3 separate regions of the Homo sapiens genome follow, and all the other regions are linked to region 1. Evidence: fine-mapped expression QTL. A gene starts in region 1. Each other region holds a variant in brackets. All regions are shown on one strand. Distances are between the middles of the regions. Region 1 holds the start of CD68 (CD68 molecule). Region 2 holds the start of TNFSF13 (TNF superfamily member 13). Region 3 overlaps FXR2 (FMR1 autosomal homolog 2).

Evidence for each region.
Region 2: its variant is fine-mapped to the expression of CD68 in whole blood (TOPMed, PIP above 0.99).
Region 3: its variant is fine-mapped to the expression of CD68 in whole blood (TOPMed, PIP above 0.99). The same link has a PIP of 0.9 or more in blood mononuclear cells.

The regions. Positions count from the first base shown.
Region 1 is chr17:7,576,057-7,584,225 of GRCh38, forward strand. It overlaps CD68 (CD68 molecule), which reads left to right and starts at 3,582. Exons shown (of 6, transcript NM_001251.3): 1 at 3,582-3,670; 2 at 3,754-4,271; 3 at 4,410-4,529; 4 at 4,655-4,727; 5 at 4,840-5,010; 6 at 5,322-6,055. The coding sequence starts at 3,622. The coding sequence ends at 5,455. EIF4A1 (eukaryotic translation initiation factor 4A1) reads left to right here. Exons shown (of 11, transcript NM_001416.4): 5 at 468-636; 6 at 1,000-1,109; 7 at 1,288-1,431; 8 at 1,513-1,650; 9 at 1,771-1,860; 10 at 2,109-2,188; 11 at 2,286-2,950. The coding sequence ends at 2,430. MPDU1 (mannose-P-dolichol utilization defect 1) reads left to right here and starts at 7,796. Exons shown (of 7, transcript NM_004870.4): 1 at 7,796-7,909. The coding sequence starts at 7,807. It overlaps SENP3-EIF4A1 (SENP3-EIF4A1 readthrough (NMD candidate)), which reads left to right. Exons shown (of 22, transcript NR_037926.1): 16 at 468-636; 17 at 1,000-1,109; 18 at 1,288-1,431; 19 at 1,513-1,650; 20 at 1,771-1,860; 21 at 2,109-2,188; 22 at 2,286-2,950. It also overlaps SNORD10, SNORA67 and MPDU1-AS1. RefSeq lists a silencer at 2,583-2,771 and enhancers at 4,247-4,306, 4,407-4,476, 6,620-7,493, 7,445-7,494, 7,494-8,169 and 1 more.
Region 2 is chr17:7,554,775-7,562,943 of GRCh38, forward strand. TNFSF12-TNFSF13 (TNFSF12-TNFSF13 readthrough) reads left to right here. Exons shown (of 11, transcript NM_172089.4): 6 at 2,004-2,128; 7 at 4,850-4,928; 8 at 5,072-5,119; 9 at 5,275-5,393; 10 at 5,576-5,714; 11 at 5,950-6,827. The coding sequence ends at 6,059. It overlaps TNFSF12 (TNF superfamily member 12), which reads left to right. Exons shown (of 7, transcript NM_003809.3): 6 at 2,004-2,128; 7 at 2,325-3,107. The coding sequence ends at 2,576. It overlaps TNFSF13 (TNF superfamily member 13), which reads left to right and starts at 3,976. Exons shown (of 6, transcript NM_003808.4): 1 at 3,976-4,523; 2 at 4,850-4,928; 3 at 5,072-5,119; 4 at 5,275-5,393; 5 at 5,576-5,714; 6 at 5,950-6,827. The coding sequence starts at 4,266. The coding sequence ends at 6,059. It overlaps SENP3 (SUMO specific peptidase 3), which reads left to right and starts at 7,145. Exons shown (of 11, transcript NM_015670.6): 1 at 7,145-7,489. It also overlaps SENP3-EIF4A1. RefSeq lists enhancers at 117-617, 2,726-3,519, 3,105-3,164, 3,975-4,024, 6,399-6,648 and 1 more and a silencer at 7,209-7,288. The variant G/A (reference allele first, on the strand shown) is at 4,464.
Region 3 is chr17:7,598,425-7,606,593 of GRCh38, forward strand. FXR2 (FMR1 autosomal homolog 2) reads right to left here. Exons shown (of 17, transcript NM_004860.4): 2 at 7,673-7,725; 3 at 7,221-7,314; 4 at 5,585-5,656; 5 at 5,333-5,481; 6 at 4,485-4,578; 7 at 2,985-3,101. Among named protein-coding and RNA genes, the nearest start is that of FXR2, 12 kb to the right of the region's middle. The variant A/G (reference allele first, on the strand shown) is at 4,007.

The sequences.
Region 1 (8,169 bases):
CAGCTACTCGGGAAGCTCAGGCAGGAGAATTTAACCCAGGAGGTGGAGGTTGCAGTGAGCTGAGATTGTGCCATTGCACTCCAGCCTGGGCAACGAGCAAAGCTCTGTCTCAAAAAAAGAAAAAAAAAATGGTTGCTGCGTGATGAGGCAGTTGGTCAAATTAGTTTTCAGAAGGTTAAGGGTTCTAAATATCTAGAGTAAAGAAACTGAATTAATTATCTGAGCGGCCTCATTGTGAATCACTGTACACTCAGGAACCAGACTGAGTTGAAATCCTGTCTTTGCCACCTATTGACAGCACGATCTTAAGTGGATTTTAGCCTCTGCCTGTTTCTCAGCTGAATGTGAGTTTAATAATAGTGCATGCCCCAAAGTTGTTGGTTAGGAATCAATACATGAAAAACATTTAAGAATGGTGCCGGGCACAGTGGTAACTGACATATGAGCACCTGCCTCTCTCTGCTCAGATACAGAAGGTGGTCATGGCACTAGGAGACTACATGGGCGCCTCCTGTCACGCCTGTATCGGGGGCACCAACGTGCGTGCTGAGGTGCAGAAACTGCAGATGGAAGCTCCCCACATCATCGTGGGTACCCCTGGCCGTGTGTTTGATATGCTTAACCGGAGATACCTGTGTGAGTAATTCGGTTCTCCAATCCCCTGGGTCACTTTGCTCTTGTGCACGCTTTCCAGTCTTTCAGCGTAAGCCAGAGTCATTCCCAAGGATGCTGGTTTCTCTCTGGGGGAAGAGCTGCTCTGTGATGGAGCCCATGCGTGTCATCTGAGCCTCTGGCTTCCCTGCCAGTGCAGCCCTGGCAGTGTCCTACTTCCCAGGGCTGTTGTCTGCCTGGCGGGAAGGTCCTGGGCAAAGGATCAGTCTTTGTACTCTGAGAGCAGACTACTTGGCTCCTCTCTGTTTTTTATCAGCGAAGTTGGATATATCTCTCCCACATTTCCCTAATCATATGCTATATATTGGCTTTTTTTTTCTTCTCTAGCCCCCAAATACATCAAGATGTTTGTACTGGATGAAGCTGACGAAATGTTAAGCCGTGGATTCAAGGACCAGATCTATGACATATTCCAAAAGCTCAACAGCAACACCCAGGTGAGGGCAGTCTTGCTTGAATAGCTAATGATTCTTGAAAAATAGTAAGTGCCAGGGGAACCATATACTGGATTCTTGAGCCTTTTTATGCATCTGCTTCAGTTTTAGGTGTGGCTAGGGAAGGGAGCAGGCCTCAGGAAGGAACCAGCACTCTAAGACTGGCCTTTTTTTCCACTAGGTAGTTTTGCTGTCAGCCACAATGCCTTCTGATGTGCTTGAGGTGACCAAGAAGTTCATGAGGGACCCCATTCGGATTCTTGTCAAGAAGGAAGAGTTGACCCTGGAGGGTATCCGCCAGTTCTACATCAACGTGGAACGAGAGGTGGGGCCCAGTGCAGGAGGCGGGCCTGGTAGTGAGTTGTTGGGTATAGCCCCTGACTGATTTTTGTCCCCCAACCTCCAGGAGTGGAAGCTGGACACACTATGTGACTTGTATGAAACCCTGACCATCACCCAGGCAGTCATCTTCATCAACACCCGGAGGAAGGTGGACTGGCTCACCGAGAAGATGCATGCTCGAGATTTCACTGTATCCGCCATGGTGTGTTTGCCCGCTGCCAGCCTGTTGTGGGTCTGCCCGTCAGAAGTGTCCTACTTGAAGCCAGGGTTCCTGGAACCCAGGTGCCTACCTGGTCTGCTGCATATTTGTTTTCTCTTCCAGCATGGAGATATGGACCAAAAGGAACGAGACGTGATTATGAGGGAGTTTCGTTCTGGCTCTAGCAGAGTTTTGATTACCACTGACCTGCTGGTGAGTAGAGGGAACTGATAGCAAAGGCAGAAGGGAGGATCCAAGGTGATTCCCTCTCCAAGGGGACATCAGTGCCTCTCAGGAAAGTAGCAGCTTGGAATAGAATCTGGCATGCCTAAGGCCTTTGGGGAACTGGGATGCTTATTTCCTCTGCCTTCCTTGGCTGCCCACATGGATGCCTAAGTGTCTTCCCTCCGGGATAGAGTGTCCTCCGTGCACATGCTGAAGAGTTGTCTTTCTTGACGTAGGCCAGAGGCATTGATGTGCAGCAGGTTTCTTTAGTCATCAACTATGACCTTCCCACCAACAGGGAAAACTATATCCACAGGTAAGCGTAGATCTGGAACACTCCCCTACCCCTTCACACCTGGCCCTCCCTGGGCTTAAAGCTCCTGATATTCCTCATCCCCTTCCTTGTTTTCCAGAATCGGTCGAGGTGGACGGTTTGGCCGTAAAGGTGTGGCTATTAACATGGTGACAGAAGAAGACAAGAGGACTCTTCGAGACATTGAGACCTTCTACAACACCTCCATTGAGGAAATGCCCCTCAATGTTGCTGACCTCATCTGAGGGGCTGTCCTGCCACCCAGCCCCAGCCAGGGCTCAATCTCTGGGGGCTGAGGAGCAGCAGGAGGGGGGAGGGAAGGGAGCCAAGGGATGGACATCTTGTCATTTTTTTTCTTTGAATAAATGTCACTTTTTGAGGCAAAAGAAGGAACCGTGAACATTTTAGACACCCTTTTCTTTGGGGTAGGCTCTTGCCCCAGGCGCCGGCTCTTCTCCCAAAAAAAAAAAAAAAACACTAATCCATTTCCCTAACCTAGTAACCTCCAGATCCCAGAGGCTCTCCTCACCTCAGCTGAGCTCCTTTGAAAGTGATTCAAGGGACTATGTCACTCAGCCTCATTTGCTGGACCAAATCTGGAGGGAGAACCCCTAAAACCCCTAAGTGAGGTTGCCCAGGGGGTTGTCCCCAGGTGGGGGGAAGCAGGGGAGAGAAAATGGTAGCCATTTTTACATTGTTTTGTATAGTATTTATTGATTCAGGAAACAAACACAAAATTCTGAATAAAATGACTTGGAAACTGCCTGTTTGGGCTTCTCATTTCTTACCTCCCCTTCCCTCTCCCACCTGCTACTGGGTGCATCTCTGCTCCCCCCTTCCCCAGCAGATGGTTACCTTTGGGCTGTTGCTTTCTTGTCACCATCTGAGTTCTCAGACGCTGGAAAGCCATGTTCTCGGCTCTGTGAATGACAATGCTGACTGGAGTGCTGCCCCTCTGTAAAGGGCTGGGTGTGGATGGTCACAAGCCCCTCACATGCCTCAGCCAAGAGGAAGTAGTACAGGGGTCAGCCCAGAGGTCCAGGGGAAAGGAGTGGAAACCGATTTCCCCACCAAGGGAGGGGCCTGTACCTCAGCTGTTCCCATAGCTACTTGCCACAACTGCCAAGCAAGTTTCGCTGAGTTTGACACATGGATCCCTGTGGATCAACTGCCCTAGGACTCCGTTTGCACCCATGTGACACTGTTGACTTTGCCCTGATGAAGCAGGGCCAACAGTCCCCTAACTTAATTACAAAAACTAATGACTAAGAGAGAGGTGGCTAGAGCTGAGGCCCCTGAGTCAGGCTGTGGGTGGGATCATCTCCAGTACAGGAAGTGAGACTTTCATTTCCTCCTTTCCAAGAGAGGGCTGAGGGAGCAGGGTTGAGCAACTGGTGCAGACAGCCTAGCTGGACTTTGGGTGAGGCGGTTCAGCCATGAGGCTGGCTGTGCTTTTCTCGGGGGCCCTGCTGGGGCTACTGGCAGGTAAGGAGGAAGGAGGCTGAGGGGAGGGGGCCCCTGGGAGGGAGCCTGCCCTGGGTTGCTAACCATCTCCTCTCTGCCAAAAGCCCAGGGGACAGGGAATGACTGTCCTCACAAAAAATCAGCTACTTTGCTGCCATCCTTCACGGTGACACCCACGGTTACAGAGAGCACTGGAACAACCAGCCACAGGACTACCAAGAGCCACAAAACCACCACTCACAGGACAACCACCACAGGCACCACCAGCCACGGACCCACGACTGCCACTCACAACCCCACCACCACCAGCCATGGAAACGTCACAGTTCATCCAACAAGCAATAGCACTGCCACCAGCCAGGGACCCTCAACTGCCACTCACAGTCCTGCCACCACTAGTCATGGAAATGCCACGGTTCATCCAACAAGCAACAGCACTGCCACCAGCCCAGGATTCACCAGTTCTGCCCACCCAGAACCACCTCCACCCTCTCCGAGTCCTAGCCCAACCTCCAAGGAGACCATTGGAGACTACACGTGGACCAATGGTTCCCAGCCCTGTGTCCACCTCCAAGCCCAGATTCAGATTCGAGTCATGTACACAACCCAGGGTGGAGGAGAGGTAAAGCTAAAACTGGGGGATGAGAGGGGAGGGAGGCAGGACTGGATATAGGCTCAGAGGGAAGAAGGAAGAGGGGACAGGGAACCTTGGCCGGCATCGCATGCAGTCTTGTGACCTTCCAGTCTTTAACTTCCGCAGGCCTGGGGCATCTCTGTACTGAACCCCAACAAAACCAAGGTCCAGGGAAGCTGTGAGGGTGCCCATCCCCACCTGCTTCTCTCATTCCCCTATGGACACCTCAGCTTTGGATTCATGCAGGTATAGCCATGACCTCAGTCTCACCCCTCACTCAGCCTCCCGGCGCCCCTCCCCTCCCAATCCCACACGCTACTCCTTCCTCTGTGGAGAGGGATACCACCTGCGCCTTCCTCTTCGCCCCACAGGACCTCCAGCAGAAGGTTGTCTACCTGAGCTACATGGCGGTGGAGTACAATGTGTCCTTCCCCCACGCAGCACGTAAGTAACCTCCTTCCCTTTCTCATTGCTACCACTAGACGCCAGGGTTCCTGAAAGGACTAAGCTGGGGCCAGGGAGGTGGATAGGATCTGACCCTTCCTCACTCCTCCAGAGTGGACATTCTCGGCTCAGAATGCATCCCTTCGAGATCTCCAAGCACCCCTGGGGCAGAGCTTCAGTTGCAGCAACTCGAGCATCATTCTTTCACCAGCTGTCCACCTCGACCTGCTCTCCCTGAGGCTCCAGGCTGCTCAGCTGCCCCACACAGGGGTCTTTGGGCAAAGTAAGACCTACCTACTCCTTCCCTCCTAGAATCCTCCCACTGCACTGAAAACCCCTTCCCCAGGCCCATAAGCCACTCATCTCTCTTCTTAACCCCCCAAATCTCGCTCTCCCAGCTTGTCATGGCTACAGGGCAGCTTTCTTTCCATCCTCTACAAGACTCTGCCAGTTTCCCCCTTTTATCACTGCTGAGTCACTGCGGTGAGCTCCTCACCAATCTCCTACTCCCCAGCATCCCCCCATTCCCTCCTCCCACCTTTATCCCAACCAGCACGTCACTGCAAATACCTACCTGCCCTATCCTTCCGCCAGGTTTCTCCTGCCCCAGTGACCGGTCCATCTTGCTGCCTCTCATCATCGGCCTGATCCTTCTTGGCCTCCTCGCCCTGGTGCTTATTGCTTTCTGCATCATCCGGAGACGCCCATCCGCCTACCAGGCCCTCTGAGCATTTGCTTCAAACCCCAGGGCACTGAGGGGGTTGGGGTGTGGTGGGGGGGTACCCTTATTTCCTCGACACGCAACTGGCTCAAAGACAATGTTATTTTCCTTCCCTTTCTTGAAGAACAAAAAGAAAGCCGGGCATGACGGCTCATGCCTGTAATCCCAGCACTTTGGGAGGCTGAGGCAGGTGGATCACTGGAGGTCAGGAGTTTGAGACCAGCCTGGCCAACATGGTGAAACCCTGTCTCTACTAAAAATACAATTAGCCAGGTGTGGCGGCGTAATCCCAGCTGGCCTGTAATCCCAGCTACTTGGGAGGCTGAGGCAGAACTGCTTGAACCCAGGAGGTGGAGGTTGCAGTGAGCCGTCATCGCGCCACTAAGCCAAGATCGCGCCACTGCACTCCAGCCTGGGCGACAGAGCCAGACTGTCTCAAATAAATAAATATGAGATAATGCAGTCGGGAGAAGGGAGGGAGAGAATTTTATTAAATGTGACGAACTGCCCCCCCCCCCCCCCCAGCAGGAGAGCAGCAAAATTTATGCAAATCTTTGACGGGGTTTTCCTTGTCCTGCCAGGATTAAAAGCCATGAGTTTCTTGTCACATGCCTTTCTATGCCTTCCATGGCTGGGTCTCAGGGAGCCGGAAGCAGCTGCTGAGGAGGGATGAAAATGTCAGTGTGTGACGATGCCTCATGGGTTCACCCCCCAAAGCCTGGCACAGCTGGTGTTGGGTCTGCCGTGCCTCCCTTCCTTCCTCCTCTTGGGGCCACTGGCTGCTCCAGTTCCCCATCCGTGGCAAGCCGGTAGAGCCATTCATCCCCGCAGCCTTCTTCCTGACCCTCGTACAGTTTCAAATGCAGCAGACAGCCAAAGCAATGAGTGGGGGGCTGTGGAACTTCATTCCCAAAGGCAGCGCCAGTGGCTCCTGAGCAATGAGAATGTCCTGTCCTGTCCACCATATTCAAGGCCAGCAGAAGAGCCCGATTAAACCCTCGCAGCACCTGGCATGCTCCTATCCCACCTACAAGGGGTTGAATCAAGAAGGAGCAGTGGGTACTCTGACCTCCACTGGGGGCTCCTGGGAACAGCATGCCCCCCACACGGGGCCACCTGCCAAGCCTAACTTCATGCCCCCAGTACTTGAGATGAGGAGTGTCACTCTCAGGACAGCCAAGGTCCAGATTCCAGAAAGGACCTCCCAGATGGCCACAGCCTGCACCAGCAGTGAGCGCCAGTCCCACCCATTACAGCTGGCTACGGCGCAATCCCTGGGAGCCAGGATGAGCAGCACCCCCCAGCCGTAGGAGCCCCAGGAGGCTTCCGGCCTCCAAGGCCCAGAGACTGCCCCACAAGGGCAGCCCTCACCTGGCAGGGCCCCAGCAGCCCCACCTCTGCCTGCAGACATCCGTGTGACCTTGTAGACTTTGGAGGGGGGCCGCCAAAGGGCTGATCCACAGCGGAATGACGCACGGGTGGGCACCGTGGGTTGGCGTCCCGGCGGTCGGTAACGAAGCACAACGCCCCCACCAGGTAGTCCAAGGTGCCCTTTCCCAAGCAGCGCTGCAGGGTCCACTCGGCCTCGCCGAAGTCTCTGCCCAGCACGTGGTGCGCCCTCGGGCCAGCGGGGAGGGGGCGAATCCCGGGACTGCCTCGCCAGGCCTCGGCTCCCCGGAGACTCTTGGGGGTCTGGGCCCCAAGGGTGATTCAGGTGCTGCCCTTCCCCGACCTGGGCTCGCCTCCCCCACCTCCTCCTCTGCTTCACTGTCCCGGGCCCAGCAGTTGCCGGCGCACTCATGCTCCGAGGCCTGAGCCAACCGGAGGCGAGACAAGCACAGGGCCCTGCGCGCAACCCGGCACCTAAGGAGGCCTGCCCGGTGCAGACTCTCCTGCTCCCACCGGCGCCCTTCCCTCTAGAGACGCTGAGAGAACGGGAGCTAGTAGCGCCCCCACCCAACGCCACCTCGGAGACTCCGGCTCCTTCTCTCTCAACTTCGAACAATACAAAGTGTGCTAGGAGAAGACAAGATGGCGCCCAGCAGGAGGAGCGGAGAAAGGCAGGGGTGTAAATCTGGCTTCCAAACTGGAAGCGTCAACAAAGGCGTGGGAGGTCTAACCGCGCAGGCGTGCAGCTTCGGCAAGCTTTACAATTCCAACAGCGCGTCCAAAACGTGGTCCCTGACTGAGACTTATTTTACGCCACTAGAGTGAGGGTGGGTAGCGTCAGAAAGAGCGGGGCACGGGGCGGGCCAGCTTCGCCGCGGGAAAAGAACGGGAGGCGGAGTGTCCGCAGCGCGCACGCGCAACGAAAGTCAATGGCGGTCTGGAGAGACTGGCGGAAGCTAGCTTTGCAATATGGCGGCCGAGGCGGACGGACCGCTTAAACGGCTGCTCGTGCCGATTCTTTTACCTGAGAAATGCTACGACCAACTTTTCGTTCAGTGGGACTTGCTTCACGGTGAGTTTTATTCAGCATCCGATCCAAGTCCTACTCGAGTGACCGTGGGCCCTTAGTCCAAGCCTTGATCGGCGACTAAGTGACGGCAGTGACTGCCGCCATGCCGAGCTGGACGGAAGTCACTTCTGAGAAGGGCGGAAGTGTCTCGGGCTCCTTAGAGGGAGGACACCATATTAGTGCCAGTGGGGAAGTCACCGGGTGGAATTACTTCTTTGTGGAGTTTGTGCTGTAGCGACAATGAAAAACGAAGAGTCAACTTT
Region 2 (8,169 bases), 21 kb before region 1:
TGGCTAATTTTTTTTTTATGTTTTAGTAGAGACGGGGTTTCACCGTGTTAGCCAGGAGCGTCTCGATCTCCTGACCTCGTGATCCACCCACCTTGGCCTCCCAAGGTGCTGGGATTACAGGCGTGAGCCACTGTGCCCAGCCTCAGACCAACTCTTAAGGAGTCACTGTCTAGGAGAGGAAACAAGCATATAAATTTGTAATTACAGGAACATACAAAAAAAATTAGCCAGGTTTGGTGGCACATGCCTGTAATCCCAGCTACTCAGGAGGCTGAAGCATGAGAATCACTTGAACCCGGGAGGCGGAGGCTGCAGTGAGCCGAGATTGTGCCACTGCACTCCAGCCTGGGTGACAAGAGTGAGACTCCATCTCAAAAAAAAATTTGTAATTACAGTGGAATATGACAAGAACAATAATAAAAGTGGCCAAGATACCTGGCAACACAGGGGAAGACAGACATGGCTGTGGAGTCAGGGATTCTCTCCCTGCATCGCAAGGTGCCGCTGGGCCTTGAAGCAGGAGCGTAAGACAAGACAGGCAAGGGGTCAAGAATGGTGGGTGCAAGCAGAAGCAGCCCCTGGGGCAAAAGCCCCGGGTTTGCCCAGAGCATGATGAGGCTGGGGGACTCTAAGTTCAGCGTGGCAGAAGCAGAAAGTGCTAGAGGAGCGAGATGGGGATGAGGCTGGAGACAGAAGCCAGGCCACACGGTGGCATGTGGGAACTATTCTGAGGTGAGCCATCGGAAGGAGGAAGGCGAGGCGAGGCGGGCTTACGTCTGCATCTTAGAGACTCATTCTGTGGCTTTGTGTAGGGAATAAACTGGAGGAAGCCAGAATGGAAACAGGGAATGCTGTGAAAACCAGACAGAGGCACCAGATGGGGGAGAGAGGGGAGAGAGCTATTTAGGAGGCAGGATAGATAGGAACTGGTGATCGATTAATGATGTAGGTAAAGGAGAGGGAGGCTTGAATATCCCCCTGGTGGCAAAACCAGAAGCCAAATGTGGAAAACAGACAGTAAAGCAAGAGTGGGATGAGGGGGGTCAGCTCAGTGTTGGTTGAGATGAGTTTGAGGGGCTATTGCTGTTCAGATGGTGCAGTTGGCAGGGTAAGGAAGGGAAGGAAACTTCAGGGCTGGAGACTCTGCAGAGCACAGGTTGTGGGAACCCATTGGTGGAAATAAAAATGCCCAGTGAGCGTTTTTTTTGTTTTTTTTTTTTTTTGGAGACAGAGTCTAGCTCTGTTGCCCAGGCTGGAGTGCAGTGGCATGATCTTGGTTCACTGCAACCTCCCCATCCCAGGTTCAAGTAATTCTCCTGCCTCAGCCTCCCATGTAGCTAGGATTACAGGTGCCTGCCACCATGCCCTGCTAGTTTTTGTATTTTTAGTAGAGACGGGGTTTCACCTTGTTGGCCAGGCTGGTCTCGAACTCCCGACCTCAGGTGATCCGCCCACCTTGGCCTCTCAAAATGCCGGGATGACAGGCGTGAGCCACTGCACCTGGCTGAGCATGATGTTTTCAAGGCACATCTGTGCCATAGTGTGTATCAGTACTTCACTCTTTTTATGGCCAAATAATATTCCATTATATGGATAGACATTTTGTTGATGGACAATTGGGTTTCATTTTATTATTTTTAGTTGTACTAATTCAGATAATGTATGTTTACATCCTCCATATAAAAGAAGCAAATAATATAGATATCCATGAAGTAAAACATTAAATCCCCTCACGCTTCTCCTTCAGTTCTACTCTTCTCCCCAGAAGTGACTGCAGGTGACAATCTGCCCTGAATGTCTCTGGCCATATACATTAGATTTTTTCACATAACTTCCTAGTCAACTATGGGCATCATAGGGGATGGGTCCTCCCTTGCCCGGGGTGATCTATGTGTCTTCTGGGTAAAGTGGGCGCCGAATGTTCATATGCTCAATGGATCCCTGGGGAGTGTGGGGGAGTCCTGTAGAGAGACGTTTCCTTATCTCTGAGCATCCGTGTTCAGGTGTGGACGGGACAGTGAGTGGCTGGGAGGAAGCCAGAATCAACAGCTCCAGCCCTCTGCGCTACAACCGCCAGATCGGGGAGTTTATAGTCACCCGGGCTGGGCTCTACTACCTGTACTGTCAGGTAAGCCCCATCTGGCTGCATGGGTAACGCAGTAAGAGAGTGGCGAAGGGTTTGCCAGGAGAGTGGGGGACAAGCTACAGGGCTGGGAGGGTGAGTTGGGGTTTGGGTGGGATGGGATGCCTGCGTCGCTGAGGAAATTGGAAATTGAGGCGAGGGCAGGCAGAGGCCTGGACTCGGCCTGTTGTCCCCACCCCAGGTGCACTTTGATGAGGGGAAGGCTGTCTACCTGAAGCTGGACTTGCTGGTGGATGGTGTGCTGGCCCTGCGCTGCCTGGAGGAATTCTCAGCCACTGCGGCGAGTTCCCTCGGGCCCCAGCTCCGCCTCTGCCAGGTGTCTGGGCTGTTGGCCCTGCGGCCAGGGTCCTCCCTGCGGATCCGCACCCTCCCCTGGGCCCATCTCAAGGCTGCCCCCTTCCTCACCTACTTCGGACTCTTCCAGGTTCACTGAGGGGCCCTGGTCTCCCCGCAGTCGTCCCAGGCTGCCGGCTCCCCTCGACAGCTCTCTGGGCACCCGGTCCCCTCTGCCCCACCCTCAGCCGCTCTTTGCTCCAGACCTGCCCCTCCCTCTAGAGGCTGCCTGGGCCTGTTCACGTGTTTTCCATCCCACATAAATACAGTATTCCCACTCTTATCTTACAACTCCCCCACCGCCCACTCTCCACCTCACTAGCTCCCCAATCCCTGACCCTTTGAGGCCCCCAGTGATCTCGACTCCCCCCTGGCCACAGACCCCCAGGGCATTGTGTTCACTGTACTCTGTGGGCAAGGATGGGTCCAGAAGACCCCACTTCAGGCACTAAGAGGGGCTGGACCTGGCGGCAGGAAGCCAAAGAGACTGGGCCTAGGCCAGGAGTTCCCAAATGTGAGGGGCGAGAAACAAGACAAGCTCCTCCCTTGAGAATTCCCTGTGGATTTTTAAAACAGATATTATTTTTATTATTATTGTGACAAAATGTTGATAAATGGATATTAAATAGAATAAGTCATAGTCTCTCTCTTTATTGGGGCTCAGGGGACACTCTCAGGGTAGCTGGGGGCCACGTGAAGGGGGGCGTTGCGGAGCGGCACAGCTGGAACTCCGGGATGATGTTCAGGCTTGGGGGCGGGGACCTCCATGCCTCCAGCCCCCAGGTGGGAGCAGAGGTAGGAAGGCACACTGCCCAGGAAAAAAATCAATCCTCCGCCCAAGGTACAGCAGAAGCGGCCTCCTTGGCCTAGGAGGCAGACTTCCTCCTGCGGGGAAATCCCTTCCTGGCTGGGAGGAGCAGGGGCCCTTCCTCTTGGTGGCCTCGGACATTCAGCAGGTGCTGGCACAGGCCCTGGCTGGGAGGTGGGGCGGGCAGGAGCCAGCCTGGAGGAGGGGCTGAGAGTCAGCAGGCACACGGGAACCCGGAACCCTGTGTGCTGGGGAGGAATCCCGCAGTGGCCGGGGGGCTTGAGGCCGCTGCTTTGTCTCTTCGTCCAGAGCCTTATGTAAGAGCTTTTCTCGGGAAACAGGAAGTCCTGCTTGCCAATTTCAGCACAGGGAGTAGTGCAGGCCTTATTCCAACACACCCGGCCCAGCCTTAACCCCAGAACTCAGCCAGTTTCTTGCTTCCGTGCCCCTGGTTCTCCTCCCCATCGAGCCCACCCCTCCTTTCCCACCTTCAGTCACCCCTAGTGAACTGCCCCAGCGATCTCTGCTGTGCTTGACCCCGAGGGTCTTCCACCCTCGCCCTGACCCTGGACACTGCCCAGCTTGGCCCCCCATCCTGCTCCTGGCACAATGCCCTCTAGCCAGCCAACCTTCCCTCCCCCAACCCTGGGGCCGCCCCAGGGTTCCTGCGCACTGCCTGTTCCTCCTGGGTGTCACTGGCAGCCCTGTCCTTCCTAGAGGGACTGGAACCTAATTCTCCTGAGGCTGAGGGAGGGTGGAGGGTCTCAAGGCAACGCTGGCCCCACGACGGAGTGCCAGGAGCACTAACAGTACCCTTAGCTTGCTTTCCTCCTCCCTCCTTTTTATTTTCAAGTTCCTTTTTATTTCTCCTTGCGTAACAACCTTCTTCCCTTCTGCACCACTGCCCGTACCCTTACCCGCCCCGCCACCTCCTTGCTACCCCACTCTTGAAACCACAGCTGTTGGCAGGGTCCCCAGCTCATGCCAGCCTCATCTCCTTTCTTGCTAGCCCCCAAAGGGCCTCCAGGCAACATGGGGGGCCCAGTCAGAGAGCCGGCACTCTCAGTTGCCCTCTGGTTGAGTTGGGGGGCAGCTCTGGGGGCCGTGGCTTGTGCCATGGCTCTGCTGACCCAACAAACAGAGCTGCAGAGCCTCAGGAGAGAGGTGAGCCGGCTGCAG[G/A]GGACAGGAGGCCCCTCCCAGAATGGGGAAGGGTATCCCTGGCAGAGTCTCCCGGAGCAGGTGAGTGAGGGGAGGAGGGTGTCTGGGAGAGGATGGTTAGCATGGGGGGTCTCTGGGCCTCCTGGTCTGCAAAGTTTCAAGGGGGTGCAAGAGAGGGTCTCCGGTTTGGAAGTCAGGGGCGCGGCCATTCCAGGAAAGGAAACTGTTAAAGGTTAATGCTTCTCATACCTAACAAATCCTGGAGGGCAGCCAGCACCAACACTCAGGGTGCTGGGAAAAGGTGCGTGAGAGATCTGAGGCATCTCGGGGGCAGGGGAGGGCTGGGAAGGCAGGCTGGCTGGGACCCTCGCATCTTAACCTAACCTTGACCCTCTTTCCATGAGCAGAGTTCCGATGCCCTGGAAGCCTGGGAGAATGGGGAGAGATCCCGGAAAAGGAGAGCAGTGCTCACCCAAAAACAGAAGAGTGAGGCTTCCAGGGTGCAGCAGGGGTGGGAGGTGATCAAGCAGCGTGGGGATTGTAAGCCCGAGTCAGGGTGAGGGTGGAGGCTGCCAACAGCACAACGGGGGAAAGTGGATGCGGCTGAGATTCCCTCCTTCTCTCCTCAGAGCAGCACTCTGTCCTGCACCTGGTTCCCATTAACGCCACCTCCAAGGGTGAGCACTATTTTAAATAATGGCTTTGGGGAGGGGCAATAACCAGGAACTCGGGCTGGCACTTGGGCTCAAGGGGTCCTTATAGGTGAAAGGGAAAGAACCAAAAAGCACCTGAGAGTGCCAAGAAGTCCTGACCGACACACTCTCACCTCCAGATGACTCCGATGTGACAGAGGTGATGTGGCAACCAGCTCTTAGGCGTGGGAGAGGCCTACAGGCCCAAGGATATGGTGTCCGAATCCAGGATGCTGGAGTTTATCTGCTGTATAGCCAGGTAACCCCAGCCACACTCTGAGCTTCACAGAGGGCCTCTTTGGCCCCCTACTGAGGGTTCCTGACCCCTCTATTCATACCAAACCCAGCAGACCCTTCTTTCTTCCCTCGTTAGCGCTCCTGAGGCCTCCCAGAACTGAGCCAGGCCATCCTGTTTTCTTCAACATCTCCCTTCCCTGCCAGGTCCTGTTTCAAGACGTGACTTTCACCATGGGTCAGGTGGTGTCTCGAGAAGGCCAAGGAAGGCAGGAGACTCTATTCCGATGTATAAGAAGTATGCCCTCCCACCCGGACCGGGCCTACAACAGCTGCTATAGCGCAGGTGAGAGCCGTGTGGGCAGCCGAAAGCAGGACGTCTCTGACCGGGGGTAGCAGTGCAGGGAGCTACCGCTAGGAGGGAGGTTGGAAACCTAAACAGAGGCGGGTCTGAGGAGTGAAGTGCAGAATGCCGGGTCCTTACAGGAGGCAGAGGAACGGTGGAGCTGGAGAAGGCAGGGGGAAACAGGGCATCTGGATGGCTGTGCTTCACTGCGAATCTACTTTCTCTCTTTTCTCAGGTGTCTTCCATTTACACCAAGGGGATATTCTGAGTGTCATAATTCCCCGGGCAAGGGCGAAACTTAACCTCTCTCCACATGGAACCTTCCTGGGGTTTGTGAAACTGTGATTGTGTTATAAAAAGTGGCTCCCAGCTTGGAAGACCAGGGTGGGTACATACTGGAGACAGCCAAGAGCTGAGTATATAAAGGAGAGGGAATGTGCAGGAACAGAGGCGTCTTCCTGGGTTTGGCTCCCCGTTCCTCACTTTTCCCTTTTCATTCCCACCCCCTAGACTTTGATTTTACGGATATCTTGCTTCTGTTCCCCATGGAGCTCCGAATTCTTGCGTGTGTGTAGATGAGGGGCGGGGGACGGGCGCCAGGCATTGTCCAGACCTGGTCGGGGCCCACTGGAAGCATCCAGAACAGCACCACCATCTAGCGGCCGCTCGAGGGAAGCACCCGCCGGTTGGCCGAAGTCCACGAAGCCGCCCTCTGCTAGGGAAAACCCCTGGTTCTCCATGCCACACCTCTCTCCAGGTGCCCTCTGCCTCTTCACCCCACAAGAAGCCTTATCCTACGTCCTTCTCTCCATCTATCGGACCCCAGTTTCCATCACTATCTCCAGAGATGTAGCTATTATGCGCCCGTCTACAGGGGGTGCCCGACGATGACGGTGCCTTCGCAGTCAAATTACTCTTCGGGTCCCAAGGTTTGGCTTTCACGCGCTCCATTGCCCCGGCGTGGCAGGCCATTCCAAGCCCTTCCGGGCTGGAACTGGTGTCGGAGGAGCCTCGGGTGTATCGTACGCCCTGGTGTTGGTGTTGCCTCACTCCTCTGAGCTCTTCTTTCTGATCAAGCCCTGCTTAAAGTTAAATAAAATAGAATGAATGATACCCCGGCTCCATTTCCCCCACTGCCTCGCCTCAGCCCGGTCCTCGTACGGGGATCTCCCGCCCTCCTGGCTCTCCTGTGGCGCGCCCCCCGCCGGATCAAGGTACTGGGGATGCCGCTAGGGTCAGGCCCGCGAGCGCGGAGAAGACAGAGCGCGGCGCAAAAGGGAAAGTGGCGGGGCCGCCACGCGCGGCCGGGCGGCGGATGTGCGCAGGCGCAGCCTCGCGTAGCGCTCTGGGCTGGCCAGTCCCGTGGCGCCGGCGTCCTCGGGTAGACGGGACCGCGCGCTTGGTGGCCGCGCCGGCGCTCTTCGCCGGGTGTGACGTACTAATCGTGCGCCACCGCTGCCGGTGGGCCCGGGGCTCGCGGGAGGGGAAGGAGGAGGGGGGGAGGAGTGGCGGCGGCGGCGGTGGCGCTGGTGGCGGCGGTGGCGGAGGTGGAGGTGGAGGTGGAAGCTGAAGCTGAAGCAGAGCCAGAGGCGGCGCGGCGGGGTGCTCGGCGGCGCGGCACGCGGCCCAGAAGCGTTGGAATCCTGAATTGAGACGGCTGCGCCTAAAGACAGCAGGAGTGGCGGGGCCGCCGCCGTCGCCGGAGAGATGAGCCGGGAAGCTTGAGGCCGGAGACGCCCGCCTTCGGGCCCGTCCGCCCGGCTTCCCCGCTCCCGGTGAGGACGCCCCCTCCCCTCCCCCCAGCCCTGCCTTGGCCTCTCCCATTCCTGGGCCTCGCTCCCACCGAACCGGGGCCCAGAGGCCCGCATAGGGGCTTCTTAAGGCCCGTGTGCGCCGAGCCATCCAAGCTCGTGGGACCGGACTGGTGCCGGGTTGCATTCTGGTCCCCGAGGATGAAGTAGGAGGGGGCTGGGCCGGCCTGGCTTGTGCGCTCCGTTCTGTCCCAGCGTCTTGATTCGGTTCTCTTTAAGTTTCCTTCAAAGTTCTTCCCCGTTTATCAGCCTCTGCCCCCTGAACCATATCCCTGGCATCTGCACTTGAGATGACCGCAGCCTTCCCATGCCCCCCGTTCATCCAGGGTGTTAGAGAACTGTCTCCCATTCCAGTCCAGTTTCCACGTGCAAGTTGCATTCTCCTCAAGTACCACGGTTATCATGTCCCTGAGGAAAGAAACTGCCCTTGTTGGGCCCTCAAAGGACAGCCCTGGTGGTATTAAAATAAAGACGTAGAACCTGGCAGTGCTATTGGGTTTGGCCTGGTGATCTTAGAAATAAGATCTCTGAGGCCTGCTGCTTAGCCATTTTCCCTTGTCTCTGGACTGGGGAGAGATGATGGCACAGACCCTGAAGGGCCCCTTGTGGACCGCGTTAACCGGGAAGATCTTAAGTTAGGAGTT
Region 3 (8,169 bases), 22 kb after region 1:
AGCCTGGGTGACAGAGCGAGACTCCGTCTCAAAAACAAAACAAAACAAAACAAAACAAAAAACCAGAAGGCACTGTTAACTCAATGGCTTCTCAGTATACGCACAATAAAATCCCCCCTCCTCAGCCTACCGTACATGTCTTACATGATCTACTCTCTGACCGAATTTTGTATCGGTCTCCCTTTGCTCACTCTGCGCTAACTACACAAGCTGCAGTGAGCTGAGATCGCACTACTGCACTCCAGCCTGGACGACAGAATGAGACTCCGTCTCAAAAAATTAAAAAACAACAACAAAAATTAGGCCGGGTGCAATGGGTCATGTCTATAATCCCAGCACTTTGGGAGGCCAAGGCAAGTGGATCCCTTGAGGCCAGGGGTTCGCGACCAGCCTAGCCAACATGGTGAAACTCCGTCTCTACTAAAAATACTGAAATTAGGGCCAGGTATAGTGGCTCATGCCTGTAATCCCAGTACTTTGGGAGGCCAAGGCAGGTGGATCACCTGCGGTCGGGAGTTCAAAACCAGCCTGGGCAACATGGTGAAACACTAAAAAAGCAAAAATTATCCAGACGTGGGGGCGCGTGCCTATTATCCCAGCTACCTGGGAGGCCGAGGCACAAGAATCGCTTGAACCCAGGAGCGAGAGGTTGCAGGGAGCGGAGATTGTGCCATTGCACTCCAGCCTGGGTGACAGAGGGAAACTGTCTCCAAAAAAAAAAAAAAAATAGCCAGGTATGGTGGCATGCACCTGTAATCCCACCCACCCAAAGGCTGAGGTGAGAGGATCACTTGAGCTCGGGGGGTAGAGACTGCAGTGAGCTGAGATCGCACCACTACATACACTCCAGCCTGGATAACAGACTGAGACTCCATCTCAAAACAAAAAACAAAAACAAAAAATAAAGTTTGTATCATCTGAAGGTAATGGTGAATTTTTACCTGCCAGTGCCCTGAGCAGGATCCCTGAAGAAGTCAAAGATTATCATGACCCAGAAATTGCACAGGCACAGAAAAAAGCCTCCCAAAAAGATCAATTCCCTTGATAAATGGAAATGGTATTCAAACACACACACCCTATTCACTTAGAATAGTATAATACCAACGAAAGGGAATCTGACAATTATACGATGTCAGAATTCAAAAAGATCTCACAGAAATACTCTAGTCAGGCCAGGCGTGGTGGCTGACACCTGTAATCCCAACATTTTGGGAGGTCGAGGTGGGCGGATCACCTGAGGTCCATAGTTTGAGATCAGCCTGGCCAACATGGTGAAACCCCATCTCTACTAAAAAAGACAAAAATTAGCCAGGTGTGATGGCACACACCTGTAATCCCAGCTACTTGGGAGGCTGAGGCAGGAGAATCGCTTCAATCTGGGAGGTGGAGGTTGCAGTAAGCCAAGATAGCGCCACTGCGCTCTAGCCTGGGCGACAGAGACGCTATCTCAAAAAACAAACAAAAAAACAAGAAATATCCTTTTTTTCTTTGAGATGGAGTTTCACTCTTGTTGCCCAGGCTGGAGTACAATGGTGTGATCTCGGCTCACTGCAACCTCCGCCTCCCAGGTTCAAGCGATTCTCCTGCCTCAGCCTCCCGAGTAGCTGGGACAACAGGCGCCTGCCACCACGCCTGGCTAATTTTTGTAGTTTTAGTAGAGACGGGGTTTCACCCATGTTGGCCAGGCTGGTCTTGAACTCCCGACCTCAGGTGATCTGCCCGCCTCAGCCTCCCAAAGTGCTGGGATTACAGACGTGGGCCACCGCGCCCAGTCATATCCTTTTTTTCTTTGAGACAGAGTTTCACTCTTGTCACCCAGGCTGAAGTGCAATGGCGCAATCTTGGCTCACTGCAACCTCCACTTCCCAGGTTCAAGCGATTCTCCTGCCTCAGTCTCTCGAGTAGCTGAAATTACAGGCATGTGCCACCACGCCCAGCTGATTTTTGTCTTCTTAGTAAAGATGGGGTTTCACCAGTCTCGACTCCCAACCTCGGATTGATCTGCCTGCCTCGGCCTCCCAAAGTGCTAAAGTGCTGCGATTAAAGGCGTGAGCCACCGCGCCCACCCTAAAAAATAAATATTCTAGTCTAGGCTGCATGTGGTGGCTCACACCTGTAATCCTAGCACTTTGCAAAGTACAGGCAGATGGATCTCTTGAGCCTAGAAGTTCAAGACCAAGGCCGGGCGCAGCGGCTCATGTCTGTAATCCCAGCACTTTGGGAGGCCGAGGCAGGTGGATCATGAGGTCAGGAGTTTGAGACCAGCCTGGTCAACATGGTGAAACCCCATCAATACTAAAAATACAAAAATGAGCTGGGTGTGGTGGCACAAGCCTGTAGTCCCAGCTACTCAGGAGGCTGAGGCGGGAGAATCGCTTGAACCCAGAAGGTGGATGTTGCAGTCAGCTGAGACTATACCATTACACTACAGCCTGGGTGACAAAGTGAGACTCCGTCTCAAAAAAAACCATTCAGCCAGGTGTGGTGGCTCACGCCTGTAATCCCAGCACTTTGGGAGGCTGAGGCGGGTGGATCACATGAGGCCAGGAGTTCGAGGCCAGCTTGGGCAACATGGCAAAACCCCATCTTACTAATAATACAAAACTTAGCCGGGTGTGGTGGCGCACGCCTGTAATCCCAGCTACTCAGAAGGCTGAGGCATGAGAATCGCTTAAACACAGGAGGCAGGGGTTGCAGTGAGCCGAGATCGTGTCATTGCACTCCAGCCTAGGCGACACAGCGAGACTCTGTCTCCCAAAAAAAAAAAAAAAAAATTGGCTAAAAGAAATTTGAAAATAATTGCACTATACCATGATAGAGCTCTGCCATCTGGAGGAGTCTGAGATAAAATAGCTGACCCAGGTTTAATTGCCCAGAAAAAGCCTTAGTCTTTGTTCTGTAAACACAAGATCATGGATGGAGGACAGGGTAGGAAGGGAGGAAGACAATACCCTTCAGCAGAAGGAAAAGGAGCTAAAAGTTACCTCTAGGTGCTTGGTAGCTTCTTCATTGCGGGACATAAGTAGCAGTTTGGTGCGCAGGCTTCGGAAATGCATATCACCCAGCAGAGATGCTCGCTTCACAGGGGCTTCTGTGGTTGACTGGGAGGAAACCAGTGGGAAAGTCATTAAAACTGGCTTGGAATAAACACTAAGGGAGAGCCAGGGACTAGAAATCAGGATGCCTAAGTCCCGGGAAAAGGGTTAAGAAATGAAGCTAGGAGACCGGGCGCGGTGGCTCATGCCTGCAATCCCAGGACTTTGGGAGGCCAAGGCAGGCGGATCACGAGGTCATGAGATCGAGACCATCCTGGCCAACGTGGTGAAACCCTGTCTTTACTAAAAATACAAAAATTAGCTGGGCGTGGTGGCACATGCCTATAATCCCAGCTACTCCAGAGGCTGAGGCAGGAGAATCGCTTGAACCCGGGAGTCGGAGGTTGCAGTGAGCCGAGACTGCGCCACTGCACTCTAGCCTGGTGACAGAACAATACTCTGTTTTCAAAAAAAAAAGAAATGAAGCTAGGAAGGAGGAGACTCATTGTCAGTCCCACAAAGGCTGACTATCAGGGTACTGAAGGAAAATGGTTTAGAGAGAAAGCAAGGAGCAAGCATAAGGTGAGAGCTACATACTCTATTTCTGAAAGTCCAAATATCAAGAGAGGGTCTCTAACCCAGATGGCAACATGATTATCAGGTTTAAAAAAAAAGGGTCAGAGGCCGGGCGTGGTGGCTCACGCCTGTGATCCCAGCACTTTGGGAGGCCAAGGCGGGCGGATCACGACGTCAGGAGTTCAAGACCAGCCTGACCAATATGGTGAAACCCTGTTTCTACTAAAAATACAAAAATTAGCCGGGCATGTCGGGCGCGGTGGCTCACGTCTGTAATCCCAGCACTTTGGGAGGCCGAGGCGGGTGGATCAGGAGATCAGCAGTTCAGGACCAGCCTGGCCAACATGGTGAAACCCTGTCTCTACTAAAAACACAAAAAAAAATTAGCCAGGCGC[A/G]ATGGCAGGCGCCTGTAATCCCAGCTACTCGGGAGGCTGAGGCAGGAGAATCGCTTCAATCTGGGAGGTGGAGGTTGCAGTGAGCCGAGATCGCGCCACTGCACTCCAGCCTGGGCGACAGAGTGAGATTCCATCTCAAAAAAAAAAAAATTAGCCGGCGTGGTGACGCACACCTGTAATCCCAGCTACTCAGGAGGCTGAGGCAGGAGAATTGCTTGAACCCGGGAGGTGGAGGTTGCAGTGAGCCGAGATCGTGCCATTGTTCTCCAGCCTGGGTGACAAGAGTGAGACTTCGTCTCAAAAAAAAGAAAAAAAAAAGGTAGGGCTACCTGGGCCTGTAGGAGTCAGGAGCAATAAAGTCCTCTTGACAAATAAATATAAGCACATTTAAGCCCTTCTCTTTCTGCAAAAGGGTTAAAAAGGGAAAAAGAAAAAATGTTCAAAAGGCTTATGTGAAATTCAGGCAGAATAAACTCACCAGAATGAAGAGCTCACTGTTTGTGATGTTGAGAAAGATGCAGTTGGCTCCCAGGGCTTTCTTGAACTCTTTATGGACGTTTTCATTGGAGCAGCTGCAGAGGAAAAAAGTACTCAGCGGGCAGAATGCAGAGAGTACAGTGAAGAGTTCGGGGGAGGCTGGACATGGTGGTTTGCACCTGTAATCCTAGCACTTTGGGAGGCTAGGGCAGGATGATCACTTGAAGTCAGGAGTTCAAGACTAGCATGGGCAACATAGTGAGACCCTGTCTCTATTAAAAAAAAAAAAAAAAATTCAGAGAAGCAGGGCTGAGTAAATAAGAAAAGAAAAGGGACTGGGCCGGGTGCGGTGGCTCACGCCTGTAATCCCAGCACTTTGGGAGGCTGAGGCAGGCGGATCACTTGAGGTCAGGAGTTTGAGACCAGCCTGACCAACATGGAGAAACCCTGTCTCTACTAAAAATACAAAATTAGCCGGGTGTGGTGGTGCATGCCTGTAATCCCAGCTACTCGGGAGGCTGAGGCAGGAGAATCGCCTGAACCTAGGAGGTGGAGGTTGCGGTGAGCCGAGATTGTGCCACTGCACTCCAGCCTGGGCAACAAGAGCAAAACTCTGTCTCCAAAAAAAAAAAAAAAAGAAAGAAAGGAAAAGAAAAGAAGAGGGACCACAGTTAAAGAACAAGGATGGGAAAATAAAGAAACTAAGTGTCTTCTTAGCAAGAAGGGCTCTAGTAGAGGGCCAGGGGAACAACAGAGAAAACTGCAAAGTGGGAGTGATGCCTGGGAGAAATAAAGCCAGAGATTAGGGCTGTAAAGAGGGCCCTCATTCCCACCATCCTTAACACTCACGCTTCTCTCAGATCCTCGGGCACAGCCATGGTAACCTTGAAGAAGCTGCCTTTGGTTGCAAGGGGATTGGGATTAACTGGCCGAAGTCGCTCCAGGGTAACAATTTCATTGTAGGTGGCATCACAGGCAGCATATTCAATGACATAGAACTGGCACATGGTAAAAAAGGAGAAGTTGTGGATGACCTGAGCAACTTTCTATGAATAACATATTTGTTTCAGTAGTTCTCCAAAGGCATTCCCAGTCACTCACATCTCCCTTCATCATCCGCACCCGGGCCAGCCACCAGCCACAAGGTTCCTGTTCATTGGCTCGAGAATAAACCTAAAGAAAAGTAGAGAATCAAAGAGATATTGAAGACCACCCAAAAGCATCAAGAAAGGGATGAGGAGGCCGGGCATGGTGGGGCTCACACCTGTAATCTCAGCGCTTTGGGAGGCTGAGGCAAAAGGACTGCTTATGCCCAGGAGTTCAAGACCAGCTTGGGCAACATAAACAATAGAACAACCATTAAGATATTTGGGGCTGCTGGGCACAGTGGCTCAAGCTTATAATCCCAGCACTTTGGAAGGCCAAGGTGGGAGGATCTCTTGAGCTCAGGAGTTCAAGAACGATCTGGGCAACACAGTGAGACCCCACTTCCACGAAAAAAAAAGAGGCCAAGCGCGGTGGCTTATGCCCATAATCCCAGGACTTTGGCTGAGGTGGGCTGATCACCTGAAGTCAGGAGTTCAAGACCAGCCTGGCCAACATGGTAAAACCCCACCTCTACTAAAAATACAAAAATTAGCCGGGTGTGGTGCCACATGCCTGTACTCCAAGCTACACAGGAGGCTGAGGCAGGAGAATCACTTGAACCAGGAGGTGGAGGTTGCAGTGAGCTGAGACCGCGCCACTGCACTCCAGCTTGGGCAACAGAGTGAGACTTCATCTCAAAAAGAAAAAAAAGGTATTTGGGATGCATCTTTTTTTTTTTTTTTTTGAGACAGAGTTTCGCTCTTGGTGCTCAGGCTGGAGTGCAATGGCACAATCTCAGCTCACTGCAACCTCCACTTCCTGGGTTCAAGCGATTCTCCTGCCTCAGCCTCCCAAGTAGCTGGGATTATAGGCGCCCGCCACCACGCCCAGCTAATTTTTTGTATTTTTAGTAGAGATGGGGTTTCATCATGTTGGCCAGGCTGGTCTTGAACTCCTGACCTCAGGTGATCTGCCCCACTCGACCTCTCAAAGTGCTGGGATTTCAGGTGTGAGCCACTGCATCCAGCCTGGGATGTATCTTAAACCAAGGATACAAGAAACCAGAGGAAGGAACTAATTAAAATCAGAGGACGGCAGGGCATGGTGGCTCATGCCTGTAATCCCAGCACTTTGGGAAGCTGAGGCGGGTGGATCACCTGAAGTCAGAAATTCAAGACTAGCCTGGCCAACATGGTGAAACCATGTCTTTACAAAAATGCAAAAATTACCCGAGCATGATGGCAGGTGCTTGTAATCCCAGCTACTTGGGAGGCTGAGGTGGAAGAATTGCTTGAACCCAAGAGGCGGAGGTTGCAGTTAGCTGAGATCGCGCCACTGCACTCCAGCCTGGGCAACAGAGCAAGACTCCATCTCAAAACAACAACAACAACAACAACAAAAAAATCAGAGGGCACTGGATTTTAGATGTTGTTACCATAAATGGAAGGCAAATCGCCTGAAACTGGGGATGTTCCTGAGAGTTTGGCTGATCACAACAGTGATAAAAGGGGAACTGTTGCATTTTACATTTCCATAGGCTACATGGCTGGATATGGCTTAGTTGGGGAGGAAGGAACATGAACCAACCAGAGAAAAGCCTAGAATCCTGGGGAAAAGTGACATTTAGAAAGGTGTACTCCACAGCCCTTACCTCCACTTCATCCCCTTCTGTGATCTCCTTATTATAGTCAGCTGGAGGTGGTAGCCGGACATCCCCAAAAGGAATTTGTCTCTCACTCTGCCAGCTATAATAGAAACAATAATATGAAAAAGCTACTCTGACTGATATGGTTGCCCATTTCTTTACAAAAGGGTTATTGCCTCAGCTGGGCGAGTTCCACCTATCTGGATAATTAGAGGCTAAACCCCAGGCCCTGCTCCATAGTAGTGTCTTCCATCTCTTTCTAGACTCTAAATACTGGGTCAAATGCCCCCACCCTCACCAAATTCTCAGCCCTTTCCTCTCCTGGGATCCATATGAGTTCCCACCCAAACCCTCAGCTCTCCCAACCTATTACATGCCTCATAGGACTCAGCTGCCCCCTCTTCTCCACTCTCCTTCTAGGACCTAGTATGCTGGATTCTCTATTCCCAAGGTCTTACTTGTTTTCAAAGAAGATGGTGACAGAGTCTTCATGGACATCCTTCACAAAGCCCTAGAATGGATTTTAGAAAAAAGCAAAAAAAATAAAATGACCTTTTACTTCCACCTTAGCCATCAAGGGAATAAGACACCACAAAACCTTAAACTTGAGTTTTAGATAGGGACACAAGTGGTGTAATGAGACAGCCTGAAAGGCTGCACTGGGGAAAGAATATGGGCAGTCAAACAGAGAAAGGAAATGATATTGTCATGGAGAGGTGTATGTACCACCTGCATCAGAACAGCCTGGAAACCAATGATCTACTCAGGCTCCCACAGGGGCCTCCCTATCTGTCTGCCTCCTGTTGTGCTAAGCAGCCTGCCAGAGTTCAATTAAAATACCAACAACATTCAGCAAGGCTAAGAATATCCCATGAGACAGTGTGAGGCTGTCCTGGAACACCTAGAGGACATGAGGATCTGTCGAGAGAGAAGGGCCTACCTCCGCAATACAGCA